2 separate regions of the Homo sapiens genome follow, and region 1 is linked to region 2. A link means that fine-mapping ties the variant in region 2 to the expression of a gene that starts in the linked region. Tissue or cell type: subcutaneous fat. Region 2 holds a variant in brackets; the other region holds the start of a gene. All regions are shown on one strand. Distances are from middle to middle.

What was found. PIP is the estimated chance that this variant, and not a neighbour inherited with it, causes the effect.
Region 1: it holds the start of CNKSR3, and the variant in region 2 is fine-mapped to the expression of CNKSR3 in subcutaneous fat (TwinsUK, PIP 0.95).

The regions. Positions count from the first base shown.
Region 1 is chr6:154,506,321-154,517,249 of GRCh38, reverse strand. It overlaps CNKSR3 (CNKSR family member 3), which reads left to right and starts at 6,565. Exons shown (of 13, transcript NM_173515.4): 1 at 6,565-7,187. The coding sequence starts at 7,136. LOC101928868 (a long non-coding RNA gene) reads right to left here and starts at 6,459. Exons shown (of 2, transcript XR_001744422.2): 1 at 6,288-6,459. RefSeq lists a cis regulatory region at 3,066-3,306.
Region 2 is chr6:154,404,654-154,415,582 of GRCh38, reverse strand. CNKSR3 (CNKSR family member 3) reads left to right here. Exons shown (of 13, transcript NM_173515.4): 10 at 1,160-1,284; 11 at 4,441-4,649; 12 at 5,151-5,240; 13 at 8,931-10,929. The coding sequence ends at 9,229. Among named protein-coding and RNA genes, the nearest start is that of IPCEF1, 53 kb to the right of the region's middle. The variant T/A (reference allele first, on the strand shown) is at 4,808.

The DNA.
Region 1 (10,929 bases), 100 kb before region 2:
CTTGAGTTTAGGAGTTTGAGACCAGCCTGGGCAACATAGTAAGACTCTGTCTCTACAAAAACAAAACAAAACAAAAAATCTTAGCCAGGCATGGTAGCACGTGCCTAAAATCCCAGCTACTCAGGAGGCTGAGGTTGGAGGATTGCTCGAGCCCAGGAGTTTGAGGCTGCAGTAAGCCATGATCATGCCACTGCACTCCAGCCTGGGTGACAGAGCCCTCTCAAAATAAATAAACAAATAAATAAATAAATAAATAAAATCCCCTTCCTTAGCTGCCCTCAACAACTGATATCTCAATATTAGAAAAGAGAATGTTACAGCTAGAAGGATCCTTAATGTTCCTTTCCACCCAAAGAAGCTGACTTGCTCAAGGTTACAGGGCCAGTTATAAACTGGGTAAGAGATTGGGATAATAAAGTTAGTTGGGATCGCGAAGTGTTCCTCTTGGAAACATGAATTTTCCAAGAAAAGGGAAATCTTAGGCCAGCACTTTAGTGGAAATGAAGTTATCTCACAAGAAGACATGGACGCAAAGGCAGAGGAGGTGACTCTGGAAAAGGAGTGACACAGTTGGCACACTTGGCCCCTTCGATGGCACTGCGTGGTCCTCCCAGGTGAGACCAGCATTGCATTTGTATTCCTGTCCTTCTTAAACCTTAAGAAGGTGCTTTATGAAGTGGGCCCTATGTCTCTTGTCCTTTCGTGCTAGGAGAAATATTAAATAGATAGAAACCCCATACTCCATCTGGCTGGCCGCTGAGCGGTACACCCAGGGGATGTAACTTGGAGCAGGACAGAAGTGAAGTCTGTGGCCTTAATTTCCCAGTGTTATTCAGGTTCTCCCTTGGGTTCTCTCCACTAGCAGCAGAGATTTCCTTGGACTCAGGTAACACTGGTTTAACCACCCAAGGGCTTTCTGTGGCTCCCTAAACTGAGGCTCCTCCAGCTTCTGAAATCCCTCTTGCCACCTGCCTGTTACTCCAGCTGTTTCTCTGGGACTAGGCCCAGGAGAATGGGAAAAAAAGTGGAAAAGAAACGGATAGAAGCCCATTCCTTTGTAACCAAAAGCAAAAGTTATACAGAACTCGAACGGAAAAAGAGATTTGATCTGGGAGTTTTCCCAGAATGGAATGCGCATGTATTAAAACAATTACTGTAAAACAATGACTGTCGCTATCATTTGTGAGCTGGTTGTGGATTTCAACAATCACTTTGCTGACTTTTTGGCAGTAAGTGTGAGTTTTCCTGTTCTATGAGACCTTTGGGAGTGTTCTCAAAATCCTATGAAATCATCTGACTGCCTACAGGAAACCCTGATTGGTATTAATTTTCATCCTTTCCCTTTTGATGTTGAAGTAGACTGAAACACTTCCTGCTTTTCTACGTTCTTTTTCTTTCCACCGCTCTCCCATCCCAAATGGTTATAGTATTTCCAAATGCAAGGAGCTAGTTGTGGAAAATTAAGGAATAGTCTCCTGTTACAGGCTCAAATGTCTAAGGATCCCAAAGGGGAAACATATATGTGCCTTTAGTAAAAATCTGGATGTGTTGATTAGCAATGGCTGCAGAATTTAAATACCTTTGGTAGGTTGAAACTAGAAGAAAGTCTCCTCCTCTGTATGGAATGGTAGCTAAGTAATGGAAGAGCAGACAACTTTTAGACTGAGCTCAAAGTTAATTAAAGCTCCTTAGTTATAGTCTGGGGCATTTGGGTATATATTTCTATTTTATTTGAAACAGGATTATTAAATATTTGTTATGCCAAACTGAAGTTAGAAAAATATAAAACAATACATATTTTTAAATTGTTATTATTTATTTTTACTAGAAGTGTCTTGAATACATAAAACAATATATAAACTATTTTTATGTTCTTGTTAACATTGTAGAGATTTTAAAAAATTTTAGCTTAGTGCGTTTAGGATACTCAAACCTGCTCTTTCTTTCTTTCTCTCTTTCTTTCTTTCTCTCTCTCTCTTCTTTCTTTCTTTCTTCCTTTCTCTTTCTTTCTTTTTTTTTTTTTGAGACAGAGTTTCACTCTTGTCACCCAGGCTGGAGTGCAGTGGCATGATCTTGACTCATTGCAACTTCTGCCTCCCGAGTTCAAGGGATTCTCCTGCCTCCCGAGTTCAAGGGATTCTCCTGCCTCAGCTTCCTGGGTAGCTGGGAATATAGGCACCCACCACCACACCCAGCTAATTTTTGTATTTTTAATAAGAGATGGGGTTTCACCATGTTGGTCGGGCTGGTCTCAAACACCTGGCCTCAAGTGATCCACCCGCCTTGGCTTCCCAAAGTGCTGGGATTACAAGCATGAGCCACCAACCCCGGCCAAATCTGCGTTTTATTTCCAAATGTTATATTTTTACATTGCCTAACTTAATTATTGTTTTATTTTTAGGTTTAGAGTGATGTTCATTAATCTTTTTTCACCCTGAGACTTTGTCCTTATCAGCATAGAATTTATGATTGAAGCAAAAATCACCGAGTCTGAAACTCTTGGTATTATATTGACTTGTTCTGAGATTATGAGTCCCATAAAGTTAAATTGGAACTGTAAGAACAGCTGGTGTAAATGGCATTCTGTTCTTTTTGGATAATCTGCAACTCGATAGGGGGTACAAAAAGTAATAAAAATCCACAGGAAAAAATGCAGGCTTGATTGTTCCCTCTTTGTCTGTGGCACCCTCCTTCGTTAGTAGCTTCTGCACTTCAGGGCAAGGACATCCAGTTCTTTTGTGGGTACTGCCTCATCTATCAACTCTTCCAAGGTACAACGATAAGGCCTTGAAAATAGAATTTAGCAACATCAATGTTTCTCTTTTTATTAGAAAAGATTAATCAACTTTTCCAAGTATGATTTAAAGTAGGTGAGGTTTTTGAATATTTATCTAATTGACATTGATCTTTGAGTTAGAGATAGGGCTCAGTAAAAGAAAGCCAAATACCAGCTTTCCAACTGTAGAATGACTTAACGTTCCTGAATGATCAGAAGAATTTGAATAAGTGAGGCAGCACTTGAAAAATAAAATATAATAAAGTTTGAAGTCTTTACTACCTGAATTATCTGATAGGGAACCTGGCATGTTCAGGGAGATAACTACATTACCGTGGTGTGAAGAATTCAGACCAAATGGAATTAAATGAAAGACAAGAACATGAGCAGTCTGGATAATTTAGTTAACCAGTGATGACTTTGCACTGATGTAATGTCATAGATAAGAATGCTTAGCTCTAACTGTAGGATATTTTCCAGGCAGAAAACTGCAGACGTTTTTGGTATCTCTCAAGATAAAAGATAACTTAAGAACATACACGAGACAATTATATGTGAAAAAATTAAATAATTTTGAATTTTCTGAAAATAGTTAAAAAGAAATGTGAGGGAAAGAAAATAAGAGAAGAACCTCAGATTGCGAAATAAAGTTGAATATTTAGAGCAACTTGCTTTCTTTCTTTCTTTTATTCTGGAAAACATTACATTGTTTTTAACTGGGGAAGGAGACTGGCTTTTTGCAGATTAATAATTTGCTTAAAAGTTTGCTTAATTTGCTCCTCTGTGTTTATCAAATTATAGGTATAACCACCAATCCAAAATACTCCATCCCTTGCTCTCACATAAAGAAGTAATAAATTTTGAACAAGCTTAAAACGTTAATATCACATTGGTCCTCGAACTCCCTTGTTTGTGTTTATTTACCAGGTCACTTTCCTTGGATGAAAGACTACAGAAGAAATCCACCTTTAGAAAGTCACATGGTGTTTTTGATCTAAAAGGCTACTCATCATTTCTGAATCCTCCTAGTGCTTAGTTTAGTGAGTACCTAATACGTATTTCATCAACTGAATAAATGACTTAAACATGCAAGAAGGGTCAAAGTCAGAAAAACGGAAGAGCTGGAAAGAAATCTAGAAGATCTGGGTTCTAGTATCTGTTCTACATATTAATTCAATTTTAAAAAGGCTTATTGAACTCCTTGTATGTGCGAGGAATTGTAGTAAACATTAAGACACAAATGAAGAGTTCTGATCTGGAAGATGGCATAGCTGCAGTTTGGTAATGTGCGTGAACATATGGTGTAATAGCTACAGATTTTAGCTAGCAGAGAAGAAAAGTTAGCAAATTTACAAATTATCCTTTTATATATACTTAATTTTTAAAGCCATTTACTTAAGATTCTGCCTTTATTAGCTTTGTATGCCATTAATAGCTTTGTATGTCCTCAAGTTTGCATTTCAGCTAGGAAGGCAGGCCTCCCTAAAACTTTCACGTGCTAACAGCTGTAATTAAGGTAGAAGGCTTTATTTAAATAGTAATTAGCTTCCAGAAGTTGAAGTGTAAACAGAATGCTAATTCATTTAGATAGTTAATTGGTCTTCCGGGTTAGAGATCTTAGCGTGGCCTTCCTCTTTAGCTATGCTGTATTTATGTACCAAGTATAGATAGTGTGTTGGCTCCGTGGGATGTTTTGCAAACTCTTGCTTGACTCGCAGAATTTTAGTGTTTTAGCTCTTCTGGTAAAGACTACTGCCAATGAATCTGAAGACGTGAAAACATCAAGTAAAATTCCACGGCAAAATCATTAATATTTGACCTTTCTTTTATAATTGTGGGGACCGTATGGCCCAGTTTATTCATGTTATTCCAATGTAATTCTTGATAGTTGCTTCTTTCATGCTCAAGAATATTTTGATTTGGAGGTAAGTTATGTGGTCACCCTAATCATAATCAGAAATCACACAACAGGCAGTGATTGCTGAAACAAAAGGTGTGCATCAGGTTGGTTACCCTTTCCAGTGAACCAGTGTCAAGGTCCTTCTCTCTGCTGACTGCTGTAAAGATGGTTAATGCTGGATGTCATTAAGTTTAAAGGTCTTTTTTTTTTTTTAAGGACAACTACTATATCAGGAATTTTGTCATTGCCTTTGCCAACTTGTGTGGTCTGCCAGTCACTTTCGCTAGATGAAGAAAAAGAATCACTATATTTGATAGTTGTGTGTCTCTGTGTTGCCCAGTCCTCTAGGGGAGTTGAATGGGAGGTGGGTCTGATGTTTTGCTTTTTAAAAATGTTTCTTTTGCTTGGATGCTCCAGCTCATCAGATGCTAGGCTGGCTGCTAGCTATTTTTCCACATGTGCGTCCAAACAGACCTGTGTAAGTAGCACATATCACACGAATTCAACAAATACTGAATGAATACAGTGGCTGGCACATAGGAAGCATTCCCGGATATTTACTGAATGAATAAATACCAACCTTGCCTTTGGTCCCGTGCTGGGTGCTACAAGTTAGGTGGTAGGAAGAAAGGGAGGAGAGAAAACTCTATATGAGATCAAGTAGGTTCTGCCCTCAAGGGGTTAATAGTCTCCAAGAGGAAGATGTAAATAAATAACCGTAATTGAAAGTAAGAATCATTCAGTGCCAAAAAGAGTGGGAGGAAGAGGTTGCTGGGCGGGGCGGGGCGGGGGTGGGGGGTTGGGGGGGGTGTTGGGGGGTGAGGGGAGGGGTGGTGGCGAGGGTGGCAGGGGTTGGGGGGGCGGTTAGGATGCAGGGAGAACTTGAAGGAGAGGCAGGCATTCAAATTAGATTTTCCCCCAGTTTAGCATTAACTCTGGCCCCAGTTGCAGTCCATGAATGTGGAAGGGCCCTCCCCTGCCAGGCGCTGAAATTGTGCACGAGCTATTTTTTTTTTCTTGGCTAACAGCTTTCCTCTCACGGTTAATGACTAATCCCAAGGAGCATTAGCTCACTCTGTAAATATGAAATTATAATATAGCAAAATATAACGCTAAAAGCCATCAATCTAATTTTAGTCGCAAAGTTGAAATTTCATAGCAATAGCATTAAAAGAGTTACATTGTTACGATTTCAGTCAACATATAAATGAAATAAAATTGTTCTGGCCTGGCGCGGTGGCTCAGGCCTGTAATCCTAGCACTTCGGGAGGCCGAGGCTGGCGGATCACCTGAGTTCAGGATTTCGAGACCAGTCTGGCCAACATGGTGAAACCCTGTCTCTACTAAAAATACAAAAATTAGCCGGGCGTAGTGGCAGACGCCTGTAATCCCAGCTACTCCGGAGGCTGAGGCGGGAGAATCGCTGGAACCTGGGAGGCAGAGGCTGCAGTGAGCTGAGATCGCGCCACTGCACTCCAGCCTGGGCGACAGAGCGAGGCTCCATCTAAAAAAAAAAATTGTTCTACTTTAAGAAACCTAAAATGACGGCTTAATGGCAGAGTAGTATTACGATATAAAGCATTTAAAATGAACAGAACATGCAGATCTTACTTTTTTTTTTCTTTTCTTTTTTTTTTAGTGTATTGTTGCTCACAGCGAGACAGAGTGTTCTGCTACCCACAGGGCCAGGGCCTCACACAAACCAGCGGGCTCTCCAGGGTGCGCGCGCGATCTACAACCCGCCCCTTGAAAAGGAAAGCGGGGCCCGGGACGCTGCGGGTGTGAGCCGGACCGGCTTAGAGAGGGAAAGTAACCCGAGTCCGCCGCTTCGGGCGGACCCGCCCCCTCCCACGAGTTTCCCTAGACCCTCGGCCCCGCCCTCTCTTTTATTCGGTTTGCAGCAACCGGAGCTGAAACTTTGCAACCCGAGCGCGCACGCTCTGCGCTCGGCCCTGCCAGGGCGGCACGGGAGGGCGGCGCAGGAGGTGGGACCTGCGCCGGGAAGGCTCCGGGACGCCAGCGCACGCGGAGCGGGGACCCCGGAGAGCCAGCAGGCGAGAAGACCGGCCGAGGGAGAGCCGATCGCGCCTCGAGAGATCCGAGGAAGTGGTCGCGGGCCGGGAGGCTCCCGTGCCGAGCCGAGGCCAGGGGTCTGGGGTCGCAGCCCGGCGTGCCTGCAGCTGCCGTCGCTCGGGAGCAGCAGCTGTGCCCGGGATCCCGGCGGCGGCGGGGGAAGGAGGAGCTGCAGCTGGACTGTGGCAGCTGGAGGGAGAGGGCCGGGCTCCCCTGGCGGAGCCGCGCTGGGACGACTGGCTGACCGCGGCCATGCAGTCTTGACGGAGTCGCTCGGGCGCAGGGGAGCAGCCGCGGGCGCGCCCTCCCGGGAAGGGGCACCGGAGCGCAGGCAGCAGCACTTTATCTGCGACTCTCCAGCCCAGCGAGAGGCGAAGCGGTTTACCATGGAACCCGTGACCAAGTGGAGCCCCAAACAAGTGGTGGACTGGACTAGAGGTGCGCGGGCCTTGGGGGGGTCCGGAGTCCTCCAGCCTCGGGGATGGGGCGGACGAGGAGCTGGGGAAGAGGGTACTTGGCCCTTCCTCCCGGCGAGAAGCGGTGAGGGCACAGCCCGGTGACAATGCAAACTTCTGCCGAGTGGCCTGTGCGCTCCTATCTCTCGTACCTGCTCCGAGCTCTTCCTTTCCAGGGTGCGGATTGTGGCAAGCCGAGGGGAGCCCTATCTTTAAACCAGGGAGTAGGGGTGGCCTTTCTGTGGCGGTTGAGGGCTGGGGATGCCGATCTCGGGACTCGGCACTCGGGCCGGGGGGCGCTCTCCCTGCCTGGCCCCGGTGCGGTGCCCGGCGACCCGGGGGCCCGAGTGCAGAGGCACAAGGTGCCTTTGTGTGGGTGACTCCCGCGGGACCTCGTCCATGCCGCCTGCCCAGAGCCGTCCGCAGGCGTGACAGGGCTGTCGGACAGGTAGAGGGAGACTCCGGCGGGTCCGCCGAGCCTGTCTGTTTTTGTTGGAGAAGGCGAGAGGGCCGCGCAAAAGCCAACACCATAGCATTTGCGCCAGGGAGAAACCTCGAGCCAGGACTCCCCGGGAGGCAGTGACTTTTGCTCCGGGAGGCGCCAGTATCCCCGGTGGCGCTGCATTTTCAGGCCACATGTAAGCACTGGGAAGGAGAAATATAATTGTTTGGAACCACTGTCTTGATTCATACAATATTTGGGATGAGGAAGGCAGTGGGGCTGGGGCGGTGGGGGGGTGGTGGGGGGAATGAGCAGAGGTAGAAGCTTGTCCTCCTAGCTGGCTCGCTTACTTTTCAATGTCTCCTACGATTTCGAGGGAAAGGTACTAGAGTTTACTCAACCCTTTTCTGTACTTTCAAGAGAACAAAGTCCACCAAGAACAATCTGTATTTTCATGGTTTCCCCCCACCCCCAACGACATCTCTGTTTCAAGTTACTATTTGTTTTTCTATCTGCTCTTCCAGGTGAGGAATGGTGTTCTTTCTCAGTAATAACTAGAATTGTGTAGCGCTTTACAGTTTGCTAAGAGCTCTCTCTGTTATTGTCCTTGGTCATCACAGTAAGCCTGTGAGGTAGGTAATACTGGTAAGACCAGGTCGTCTTTCAAACCGTCCCACCCATGGCTGCAGCATAATGAAAACTGATCACCGCTACATCTCATTTCTCACGCCTGTGACTTACACATAGACCACGTGGAATAGGATGTCCGAGGTGTGTGGGGTGTGTCAGTGGGTATGTCTGACCATTTCCTGCTCCTCTGGGAGAACTCCTTGAGAACGGGTTTGTCAAGTGAGCAGAATTTCCTGGACTCCTATATAAAATGAAGCTAAAAACAACACATGTTTCTGCCTTGGTGACTAGGTTTCCCTTGGTAAAGAGTAAGTGGCATTGCCAGTACTTGGTAGGAAGCATGAGCTTAAAAGCCATCCATGCCCACGCTAGCTTGAAATGAGGTGTGTTCCTCCATTCAAGATGCTGCCAAATTCCCTAGGCTGGCAGCTTCCTGAAACTGAGTTGATATGTATTTTATCTGTATGTCCCTCATAGAGCCAACTTGAGACACTGCAAATTTCAGCTACTGTTGACTTCTAGAGCCGCTCTGTCCAACTTAGTAACCAGTACCACTTGTGGCTCTGCAGCCCTTGAAATGTGGCTGGTTAGAATTGCAATGTGCTGTAAGTCTAAAATACACATGGCATTTGAAGACTTGGTATGAAAAAAAAGAACATGAAATATCTTAATACTTTTTATTACATGTGGAAATGATAGTATTTTGATACGTTAGGTTAAATAAAATATATTACTAAAATAAGCTTCACCTGTTTATTTTTACCTTCTTACATATGTCTCCTAGAAAATCTAAAATAACACAGGGCTCACATTTGTGGCTTCCATTATATTTCTATTGGACAGTTCTGCTGTAGCAGAAAGAAAGGGTTACATCTTATCACCCTGGCTTTTCTGAGCCTCTGCCAGCTTAGTTGATAATGTACAATCAGAAAAATGGTAACAGGCGCACAGGAAGATTATGGAGTGAGATCTTCACACCCTCAAGATTTGTGTCTGGTTTTGTTGTTGTTGTTGTTGTTGTTTTTGTCCCTCTTGGGATTGGAAAAGGAGAAGCGTAAAATCACATCCTGTTATGTTTGTTGAGTATTTAAAAGGGAAAGTAGATTAAAACGTTTTTGTTAGCCAGTTGCCTTGACGTTATCAGTTAGTTGAGTTACTTTCATCTAGGAAAAGTTTTCTCCTGACCTGAAAGAACATCTATGGCTGGCTCAATACCTACGATACTTACTAGGTTACATACCTGTGGTTGGCACTTGACTACGTTATACAAAATGCCTGTGCCCTTTTGGACCCTGAAATACAGCTTAGTAGAAAGACCTGGATACGTTCTGTGTTCGAATCTAAAAAAGATGGCTAAGATGATAAGAGGCTGCAATCTTCCAAGTTGCGTGACCCATTACTTGAATATTTCTCATAATAATGATGCTCAAGTATTGACTTTTTAATGAACTATCGACTTACAAAAGCTCGTCTGCTTATAGGACTATTTTTAGTGCTCTTTGCTAATCTCTTTACCCAACCTTTATTTTATAAATACATGCTACTGATAAGCAGCTCTTCATGTAGACTTTGCTACTCTTGGTATTGCATGAATCTGGGTAGGGCGATTATGAGAACCATAGAAGGCCTTAGATTTAAAACTGTCTAAACCTGGCCACAGTCGACAGCTGGATCTCACCTCCTTGTTATTTGACAGATGTGTGCCTTAGGAAAGAAGTTCTTGTCTACAGAATGAATTAACCTGTCTGGCTTTTATTATTAATGTTTAGCTACACTGTCACCAATTTTACCGTAATGTTAGTGGATCCTCAGTAATTATTAAGCAGTGTGTCAGGCACATGTCTAAGCATTGTACAAATATCAGCTCATTTAATAGGCACCACCACCTTTGAGGTAGGAACAGTTATTTCCATTTTGCAGTTGAGGAAACCGAGTCACACACAGATTGACCGATGTCACCCAGCAGAGCAGGTGGTTTGGCTTCACTCCACTCCATTTTCTCAGGAGTTTCTTCCCAAGGCCACATCTAGACCACACCGACAATCTTTACATTTATGAATAGAACTTCAGGATTCGGTCTGAATAGCATATGGTAGCGGAGGAGTCTCATCCAGTATATGTCTGTGTTATTCTCTATCTTTAGTTCATGTCAGAAAGTTATTTGTAAGTCAAATTAATTCCTAGTTCATGGCGCCTTGCCAGTCAGTTCAGTAAAGGCCTTTGCAAAGCAAATGATCTTTTACAACGTGTAGGGTTAGCCGCACATAACAGAAAACCCAGTGGGTTAACCAAATTGGGGTTCCATGGCGCTGCCATCTTGTTCAGCCATTCGTAGCACATGGCGTAGGGTATGGCCTGGCACATGGTGTTCATTTTCATACTTAATGCTTCAGTGCAAGGTGGCGGCTCCTGCATGATTGTCTTCCTATTCCAGGCAGAAGGGAGTCTCATGGAAGACAGAAGACAGGTAGCAGCCAAGTCTTCCCCTTTAAAGAGTTCTTTGAAAAACTGTCAAGTGACCTGGTTTACATCTCAGGTGCCAGAAATGTCACATGGCCACCTCATGCAGCAGGGAAGGCTGGTTGCTGTAATTTCTTTCTTTTTCCTTCTTTTGTTTCTTTTCTTCTTTCTCTTTCCTCCCTCCCTCACTACC
Region 2 (10,929 bases):
GATGGGGCACAGAGACATTGTGTGACTTGCTCAACAATAAACAGCTAATAAGGGCTGTGCGTGGTGGTTCACACCTGTAATCCCAGCACTTTGGGAGGCTGAGGTGGGCGGATCACCTGTGGTCAGGAGTTTGAGACCAGCCTGGCCAACATGGCAAAACGCCATCTCTACTAAACATACAAAAATTAGCTGGGTGTGGTGGCACGCACCTGTAATCCCAGCTACTTGGGAGGCTGAGGTAGGAGAATCACTTGAACCCAGGAGGCACAGGTTGCAGTGAGCCAAGATGGCGCCACTGTGCTCCAGCCTGGGAGACAGAGGCAGACTCCATCTTAAAAAAAAAAAAAAAAAAAATGGGCAGCTAGTAAGTCTAGCCAGGATCACATCCAGAGTTCCAAGCAATACTCCTAGTCAATAGTAGCACTGCTACTGATTGCTTTTTCTTTTCTTTTCTTTCTTGTTTTTTTTTTTTTTTTTTTTTTTTTGAGACAGAGTCTCACTCTGTTACCCAGGCTGGAGTGCAGTGGTACACTCTTCGCTCACTGCAACTTCTGCCTCCTGGGCTCAAGCAATCCTCCCATCTCATCATCCCAAGTAGCTGGGACTACAGGCGTGTGCCACCACGCCTGGCTAATTTTTATATTTTTTTCGTAGGGACTGGGTATCGCCATGTTGCCCAGGCTGGTCTCGAAGTCCTGAGCTCAAGCAATCCATTGTCCACCTTGGCCTCCCAAAGTGCTGGGGTAACAGGCAAGAACCGCCGTGCCCAGCCTTGCTAGTAATTTTCATGAACTAACTCATCTAATTCTCACTGCAGCTCTATGCAAGAGATATTATCAGTATCACTCCTTTACAGAAGAGGAAAGGGAGGCCACAGATGTTTAAGTGATTTGCTCAGAGCTAGAGTCATAACCCTGGCACCTGGCTCCTAAGCCTCTGCTTCTTGCCACTATACATCGTCATTCAAATCCCTCAGCTCATTCTAAGGTTTCAAAGAAGAATGTAAGTTAAATATTGCCAATATCTGTAAACACATGAATGACCTCAGTCCCTGTTCAGACACGGGGTTGGTGTTGGTTTGGGGGAGGGGAAATAAACACCAAGAATCATCTCTGAATTGATCTCCACTCTTTGCATTGCTGTGTTACTCCTGTTTCAGACCTCACCTCCACCCGCGACAACCCAGTCCCCTGAAAGCACTATGGATACCTCACTGAAGAAGGAGAAGTCAGCCATCCTGGATCTTTATATTCCTCCTCCGCCTGCTGTTCCCTACTCTCCCCGGTATGTTGCTGTCCATTGTCATGGTATGCTTGTCTCCTGTTGGTGTCATTTGTAAATGGTGGTGTGAAAAGAGGATCTTGAGAGAGGAAGTTGCTGAGCCACAGTGTGACAGGGCTGAATCTTGAACTGCCGTTAAAAGTATGATCAGCCTTATTTTATAGGAGTGTAGGGACATATCTGGGTTCTGTGGGGCTTGAAGCTATACAGTTTGGTGGGGAGGGCCCTTCTGAGAAAAGAATATGGCAGTATTGGCCAGGTGTGGTCGCTCACACCTGTAATCCCAGCACTTTGGGTGGCTGAGGCGGGCAGATCACTTGAGCTCAGGAGTTCAAGACCAGCCTGGGCAACATGGTAAAACCTCATCTCTATAAAAAAATACAAAAATTAGCTGAGTTTGGTGGCAGATGCCTGTAGTCCCAGCTACTCAGGAGGTTGAGGCAGGAAAATCGCTTGAGCCTAGGAGGTGGAGGTTGCAGTGAGCAGAGTTTGTGCCATTGCAATCCAGCCTGGGTGACAGAGCGAGACCCTGTCTCAAAAAAGAAACAAAAGGATATAGCAATACCTTACTTTTGAAAAACGAATGAAAACGTGCTCTCCTGGGGCCTTGGAAGGGTCTATTGGGGGCCCTGCAGGTTAAGTTTCATTAACTCCATGGTAAATTCATCTTGAGGGGGTAGATAATAAGTATTTCTGTGAGATTAATGAGAGTTGCAGCTTGATTTTGCTGAGAAAGATGTGTTCTTCATAGAACTTGAAAAAAAACCTATGTGGCCAGGTATGGTGTCTCACGCCAATATTTCCAGCACTTTGGAAGGCCAGTTCAGAGGATTGCTTGAGCCCAGAAGTTCAAGACCAGCCTGGGGAATATAGTGAGGCCCCATCTCTACAAAAAATTTAAAAAATTAGCTGGGTGTGGTTGTGTGCACCCGTGGTCCTAGCTACTCAGGAGGCTGAGGTGGTAGGATCACTGGAGCCCAGGAGGTCGAGGCTGCAGTACAATACACCATGATCATACCACTGCACTCCAGCCTGGACAACAGAGTGAGACCTAGTCTCAAAAACAAAAAAACAAAAAACAGAAAAACTCAGACCTTGTGAGTGTAGGTATGAACATTTCATATTTGTGTGTGTGTGTGTGTGTGTGTGTGTGTGTGTGTGTACCATAAATTCTTAAAAAGATAGTTGCTTTCTTCATGGCTAACTTGAATACTGTATGGTATAATGAGGGTGGTATATAGAGTGTACAGGATGATTTAGGTGTGATCTAGGCTTATTTTTATCAACTCACATATTTATATATGTTGATAAAACTAGACAATCTGGCTCATTTATTCAGCATATCTTTCCTGAGTATTGGGTCTGGGTTACCCTCTGACACAAAACAGACTCGGTCTTTGACCCTACAGAACTGCCAGGGTCTTATTCAACAATTCAAGCATATATTGAGAAATATATGATTAGGTTATAATATTTCATAAAACAAAGTTCAGGCTGGATTTTATTACAGTGACATTTTACTTTCTATCAGAATTTTTTGTTTGTTGGTTTTCATTTGAAGCTGAGGTATTTGCTTCATTGTATTTCTTCTGCATTGGGTGCAGAGATTCAACATTGTTTTCCATTTCCTTGAGTCTTGGCTTACTCAGAACTTATTATAGCGTGTAGAGAATGTACCTCAGGTGATCGGGGCATTCTGGTTTGCAGGATCTTAAGTGTGTTTAAAGTTACAGGTAGTCTTTCCCTCTGCATATAGAGAGCATGACATTCCACTACTAATGTGTGGATTGTTCTATCAGAAACTGGAGGAAGGCACCCTCCCTTGATCCAGAATATTCTTGTCTGGGTTCCTGGAGTAGTGGCAAGAAAAGGGGTGCTGTGTACATAGTGAGAGATAAAGGAACCTGGGGCTAGGAGGAGAGCTGGATTAAACTGCTCGGGAAGACGCTTTTGAGAGTGCACACACACCACTCATGAAGGATTTTCTGAGGAATGAAAAATGGGAATGGATTACTGAGAAACAAGTCATGAGTCATGAAAGCTTTGTGAATGGGGAGTTATATGCCCGGTTTAAAGGTATGGAAGGAGATATATTTGTGGGTGGGAGGGGTAGGTGGATGCCATCCCACCTGGGAATACCACACACAGACATGGCTGATTAGTAGATTGCTTTGGGACTCAGTTGATTCTGTATTTTGTCTAGCAGTTTTTGTCCTGATTTGCCTAATGGAATTTACCAAGTGCAAAAAAACTAAGCAGCTGGTAACTTGGACTCAAATTAATCCTACAGTTTAAACTGACATGTAGATAGAATTAGAATGGAATCAGTGATCCAACTTTTGCTGGTTTTTGTAGTATTTGATTCAGAAAAGAATCACTCTCCATTGGTTACTATAAAGGTTCCTTTGTATCTTTTGACATGGTTTTCAAATCTAACAACTTCATAATATATCAAGTCTTTTTTGCTGGATTTTGGCAGAGATCCGACTCTTGGCATGAGCAACGTGGTTCGCTAGAGCATACCTTAATGTGTGATTGCTGTAGTAAATAGGATATTCAGCTACACACAGAAGCACAGGAAAACTAGAGCTGTCTTTTCAAAGCTATATTTGTTTGGATATTAAAAAAAACCCTGCATTTACTCTTCTTTTTTTTTTTTTTTTTTTTTGAGATGGAGTCTCGCTCCATTGCCCAGGCTGGAGTGCAGTGGCATGATCTCAGCTCACTGTAACCTCCGCCTCCTGGGTTCAAGCACTTCTCCTGCCTCAGTCTCCCAAGTAGCTCCTGCCACCACACCTGGCTAATTTTTGTATTTTTAGTAGAGATGGGGTTTCACCTTGTTTGTCAGGCTGGTCTTGAACTCCTGACCTCAGGTGATCCACCTGCCTTGGCCTCCCAAAGTGCTGGGATTACAGGCGGGAGCCGCTGTGTCCGGCCTGCATTTATTCTTATTTCATCACGTCATGGTATTTTGCTTATTTAATAGGATCTGTATGTATTTGAGCGGCAACTGGGGTTGACAAAAGGAATGCTTTTCCTCCAGTGGAAAAGGAGAATTTAAATTATCTTCTGTGTGCTGGAGGTAGCAGCACTGCTGGAATTCTTCAGTATGAGAACATCTTTGTAAACAACTTAATTATTGTCCATATTATCTTCCAGGGATGAGAATGGCAGTTTTGTTTATGGAGGGTCCAGTAAGTGCAAACAACCATTGCCTGGTCCTAAGGGTTCAGAGTCCCCGAATTCCTTCTTGGACCAGGAAAGCCGGAGACGAAGATTCACCATTGCAGACTCGGATCAGTTGCCTGGGTACTCGGTGGAAACCAACATTCTGCCCACAAAAATGAGAGAGAAAACACCATCTTATGGTAAGTTTCAAGTGTTTGTTTTGTTCTGCCGTTGGCCTTGACTTCTCCTCCCCGCCCCCTGCCTTAGTTGGAACTGTTGGATGAATTTGGCAGACTTCAAGAGTAATCTGAGGAAAACATAAACCTCAATGAAATTCTAAGTATGAGACCTTTATTCA[T/A]CTCTGTCAAGCGGATCCTTGTTGAGTCATTACTCTGCCTGGCATGAAAGCCCAACTGGGTGAGATCATGTTACAGTTTTAACTTTCAGTGCCTGGGTTTTAGCTTTGGAGTTGCTTTGCTCTGTAGACTCACAGGCTCAAGTTTAATGTGCCTCTATCTTAGTAGCACTCTATTTCCTGCTATGGAAATACAGTGCTTTAAAATACTTTTATTTTAAAATTTGTTATTGCTTCTGTCTAAGTGGGTGTGGTATTGTGAGGTCTAAGTTATACATAAAGGGAACGGTTCACTAAAGTTCCAGAACTCATCAAACTTGTCACCTTCTTTCTCGTCCCTCTGAAGGCAAGCCACGGCCTTTGTCCATGCCTGCTGATGGGAACTGGATGGGGATTGTGGACCCTTTTGCCAGACCTCGAGGTCATGGCAGGAAAGGTACGTTTCATCCAAGCAAACCAAGGAACAGCAAATGGGGAGTGAACAGCCCCAGGGCCTGGTTTCACCTCTGTTTCTAAATGTGTTATAATAAGTAGACTGAGTACTTGGCCTTTCTGAGTCCCGTTTTCTCATCTGTAAAATTAGGACTGCTGAAGATCTTTAAGATCCTACTTATTTCTAGAATGGCAAAATTATATAATCCTAGTTAGTGATTGTAAATATCCTAATTAGCATTGAGTGCTGTAAAAAGGCTATAGACTTTAATGGTCTAATTTTTATTCATTTACTTTTTAGAGACAGGATCTTGCTCTGTTACACAGGCTGGAGTGCAGTGGCGTGATCATACCTCACTACAGCCTTGAGCTCCTGGACTCAAGTGATCCTCCTGCCTCAGCCTCCTGAGTAGCAGGGACTACAGGTGCACGCCACCACGGCTGGCTAATTTTTTTTTTTTTTTTGGTAGAGACAGAGTCTCAATATGTTGTCCAGGCTGGTCTCAAACTCCTAGCTGTAAGTGGTCTTCCTGCCTCAGCCTCCCAAAGTGCTGGAATTACGGGGATGTGCCACCATACCCAGCCAATAGTCTAATTTTTTAATGAATAGAAATAAATTATTCATTAAACAATCTTTTTCAAAATTTATTTTTAAAAATTGAGATGGGGTCTTACTATGTTGCCCAGGCTGGCCTTGAACTCCTGGGTTCAAGTGATCCTCCCACTTCAGCTTCCTGAATAGCTGGTGTTACAGACGTGTGCCACCATGCCCAGCTTTCATTAAACAATCTTATTCTAAATTTTGTTGCTTTTATTTTTGGAGTCTGTTTGATTTCTGATGAACAAACATGGATTTTTTTTTCTTCCAAGTCCTTCTTATGTTAGAAGGCAGTTACTATTTGAAAAGAAATTTGTGTTTAATTCACCCTGTAATCAAAGTCCCTGGTTATTATGCTGGTCTTGAGTGAAATGTTTTAAAACATTCTCATTTTATTGCCAGATTGCATTTGATTGTCATCATTGGCAGAACATTATAACATTGTTTTTGCAGTTGTTGAAACAAAGGGCAGTTGAAAAGTTAAAGTACAATAGGCTTTAGATAGTAAAAGGAAGAAGAAAAAATTCTGGAAGCCTAACCTTCCAAAGGGATTGATTGACCCCTGACCCTTTCTAGGGACTTGGTAAAGTTTGTCACCTAAGTACCCATATCACCTGTATTATGCTAAAGTGAAAAAGGGAAAGATGCCTGGGTACCTACCATTCAGGATCCCCTTAGTTAACGTGTGAGTATCCATGGAGCAGTCAGCAGGTGGCAGGGCTGTCCGTTGTTTAGATTTAGACACGTTAACATCTTCCTTGCCGTTCATCTGAGCCAGGGTTGAGCCTTTTATTTATTTTATACATGGAGAGATGAAGTGTCAGGGTTATGGGGTGTGAAATTGGGAAATGGAAAAATACTTGTTCCCTCCACTCCTCCTTGCATATTTTTCTTGCATGATTGTTTTGGAATAAAGGTATCTATCTATACACAGCCACTTAAAAAAATAACAGTTTTATTGAGATATAACTCTTTGCATGAAATTCAGCTTTTTAAAATATACAGTCAGGTGGGTTTTAGTATATTCACGGAGTTGTACCCCAGTTGCCACTATTCCAGAACATTTTTGTCACTCCAAAAAGAAACCTTGTGCCTTTTAGCAGTCACTCCCAATTCCGTCCTTCTTCAGCCCCTGACAGGCACTCATCTACTCTGTGGATTTGCCTGTTCTGGACATTTCATATAAATAGACTTATGCAACATGTGGCTTTTTGACAATGGGCACTTTTTCAATGTGACTGTTCCCCTTTCATTACAAAAGCAAAGCAAGTACATTGAAAAACATGGAAGGCATGAGAAAATAAAACTCAGCTGGAATCTGTTTCTCTGACCTAAGAAATAATCACTGTGAATGTTTCGTGTGATTTCCAGTTGTTCCTGTATTTACATTTATATACTTAGAAAAATGTGCAAAATGGGAGAAGTTGGCCAGGTGCGGTGGCTCACACCTGTAATCCCAGCACTTTGGGAGGCCAAGGCAGGCGGATCACGAGGTCAGCAGTTCGAGACCAGCCTGGCCAACATGGTGAAACCCCGTCTCTACTAAAAATACAAAAATTGGCCAGGTGTGGTGGTGGGCGCCTGTAGTCTCAGCTATTCGGGAGGCTGAGGCAGGAGAATCTCTTGAACCTGGGAGGCGGAGGTTTCAGTGAGCCCAGACCTCTCCATTGCACTCCAGCCTGGGCAACAGAGTGAGACTCCGTCTCAAAAAAAGGGGAGAAGTAAATATTCAATAATACTATGTAAAAATGAATATTATCTACACCATATTTGAAAAGAATATAGCCGTATTAGAATGCCATCTTATGGCTCTAGCGCCTATTTATTCAACGTGCCACTGTTGGAAATTTAGGTTTTTTTTTTTTTTTTTTTTTTTCAAATTCTAAAATTTGAAAAAGGCTAAAATTTTCTAAATTCTAAAATTTAGAAAACTTAGAATTTAGAAAATTTAGAAAATTCTAAAATTCAAATTCTAAAATTTGAAAAAGGTTTCAGTAGGCTAGGTGTGGTGGCTCATGCCTCTAATCCCAACACTTTGGGATGCTGAGGCAGGTGGATTGCTTGGTCTCAGGATTTCGAGACCGGCTGGGTGTGGTTGTGCGCACCTGTAGTCCCAGCTACTTGGGAGGCTGAGGTGGGAGGATCGCTTGAGCCTGGGAGATGGAGGCTGCAACTAGCTGAGATGGCACCACTGTACTCCAGCCTGAATGACAGTGAGACCCTGTCTCAAAAAATAAAAATAAGCATAAAAATAAATGTTTCAGTAAGCATCCGTGAGTCCATAGATCTTTGCACATTTTGGGGTGTAGAATTTCCGCTTCACAAGGATGCTACATGTTACCAAAGTGTACTGTATTTTAAGTTTCTATTCAGTTTCTTAACATTCCAGCCACATCCCAGGGGGTCTGCTGGCAGTTAGGGCAGGATCACTCTTTTCCTTGTTCGGGAATGTTCCTGAATGCCCAGCTTGAATGCCCTGCATTAAACAATGCATAAACAGTTCTGTTCAGCCATCGCGGGGACACTACACTCTATGGTCCCCACCCACTAAAGGAGACCCGTGTGCTACCTCTCAGGCGCTAAAGCAGCCTAAAGTATGAGGGACCCTTCCCATTTCTGCTTCCAGAGCACCCATTGGTGGGCCCAGCCACAGGTGGGACCTTGTGGCCAATCCAGGGAGGAGAGCAGTAAAGGTATGGTGCCCACATTCAGGGTGGTGGCAGAAGTCTGGGCAGGCCGAGGGCCCTCCAAAGAGCACTGTGTAGGGGATTGTGATTTTTTTTTTTTTTTCCTGGAGGGGACAGAGTCTCGCTCTGTCAACAGCCTGGAGTGCAGTGGCGCGATCTTGGCTCACTGCAACCTCCGCCTCTCGGGTTCAAACGTTTCTCTGAGTAGCTGGGACTACAGGCGCCCGCCACCACGCCAGCTAATTTTTGTATTTTCAGTAGAGACGGGGTTTCACCATGTTGGCCAGGATGGTCTAGATCTCTTGACCTCGTGATCCACCCACCTCGACCTCCCAAAGTGCGGAGATTACAGGTGTGAGCCACCACGCCCGGCTGGGATTGTGACTTAATGGACTTTGTCTGGAAACAGGGGAGGATGCCCTTTGCCGGTATTTCAGTAACGAGCGGATTCCTCCGATCATTGAAGAGAGCTCCTCTCCCCCATACCGGTTCTCCAGACCCACGACCGAGCGGCATCTGGTCCGGGGTGCGGACTACATCCGAGGAAGCAGGTGCTACATCAACTCAGATCTCCACAGCAGCGCCACGATTCCATTCCAGGAGGAAGGGACCAAAAAGAAATCTGGCTCCTCAGCTACGAAGTCCTCGTCCACAGAACCGTCCCTCCTGGTCAGCTGGTTTACGCGCCTCAAACTGTTGACTCACTGAGAGGGACCCTGCTCAGGCCACCTGCCTGGCTCCTGCCCCAAGTGCCTTGCTTTTACAGTGGACAGCCTCTTCTCGTTTCAGCCTCAGTATTATGTAGGGACCTTATGCAATTTCTTTTTCTTTTGAAAAGTTATCTACTGCCCTTCTTGGAAGTTTGCAGGATTGGATGGGAACAAATTCAGAGGATCTTAGGTGCTGGCTTGTGGAGACAAAAGGAGGGAAATGGGTAGAGCCTGTTTGTCTTGCTTCCCCAGAGATAGAATGTGAAGACACGCGCTAGAAATCGCAGTCCTGGCCAGAGACGTTATGGTCATTGTGAGGGACTGGTGGCATTGTTCCTTTTTGAGGGGCTGGGGGGACTCAAATTGGTGGCTGTTTTCACACAGATGTGTTGGTTTGTGGTCCAACTTCTTTATCTGAAAAAGCCAGTGAGAAAACATTTTTGATTTGATTTTTCTAAACTATCTACCATATTTTAAGTGTAGCAGCTTTGACTTTGCAATAACGTGGCAAGTATCTGATTTCTCCTTTGAGGCAGAGGTTTAAGTGTAGGCCTGTTACACTTGTTTGATACCTTTTTCATGACAGTCTCAGTATAGATCAGTTGGTACAGAAATACATGAACACATTTTGATAGGGCTTATTTCACACAAAGAAGTTTATGGTTATTTGTGTGGGGTGGTGTTGTTATATATTATTGTCTTTAAGGGAAAAGAAGCTATAAGATTCGCTGACAGCCAAAGTATCATTTAGAAAAGTGAAGCAACAAGATTTAGGTTGATGAAAGATACATGAGTTTGCATTTTGACCTGTTCAGTGTCTGTCTTCCAGCACGGTGTGTACACTTCTTCAAAATTGTACACAGTTTGCTAATTAGAAATATCTTGGAAAGCCTCATGGTCACTAATTTTCAACTAGCATCAGGTATTTTGAAAACGTGTGTCTGGATATTAACTCTTGTTTAAACTGAATGTATGATATTTTGTTAGAATGGAAAAGTACTATCTTGTTAATTTAAGTATTTTAAATATAGTTGTATATTTTTCTTACTCTTAGTCACCTGTAATTGAAATATTTCTGTTTTGCGTCATACACGAAGCTAGTGAAAAAGAAAGTGCAAGGCATTTTCAGATGAGCAAGTGACTATCGTGGCTGTTGCCAGCAGGGCAGTATTGTTAAAAAAAATCAAAATAAACCCTCCCAAGCATTTTGGGATTTTATGGATTAGAAATGGAAGAACAGGAGAAGCATATGCAAAGTGAAATTGCACGAGGGGAATTTTCTGAGGTATCTTCCTAGGCAGAGCCGAAATCTCCTACTCCAAAATGCCCTTTCTCATACCACCGGAATTGTTGAGTTTGCTGAACTGCCTGGAATTCAGCCCATGAAAATCACTGGAGTTAGGAAACATCTTCCCTTTAAAATGCTTCTGGTGTGGTTAAAGGAACTAGCAACCACTCATGTATAATTACTGTGACTGAATTCAGTCAGGCTGGTTTTTTTTGTTTGTTTGTTTGTTTTTGAGATGGAGTCTCAATCTGTCACCCAGGCTGGAGTGCAGTGGCGCAATCTCAGCTCACTGCAACCTCCACCTTCCAGGTTCAAGCGATTCTCCTGCCTCAGCCTCCCATGTAGCTGGGATTATAGGTGCCCGCCACCATGCCTGGCTAATTTTTGTATTTTTAGTGGAGACGGGGTTT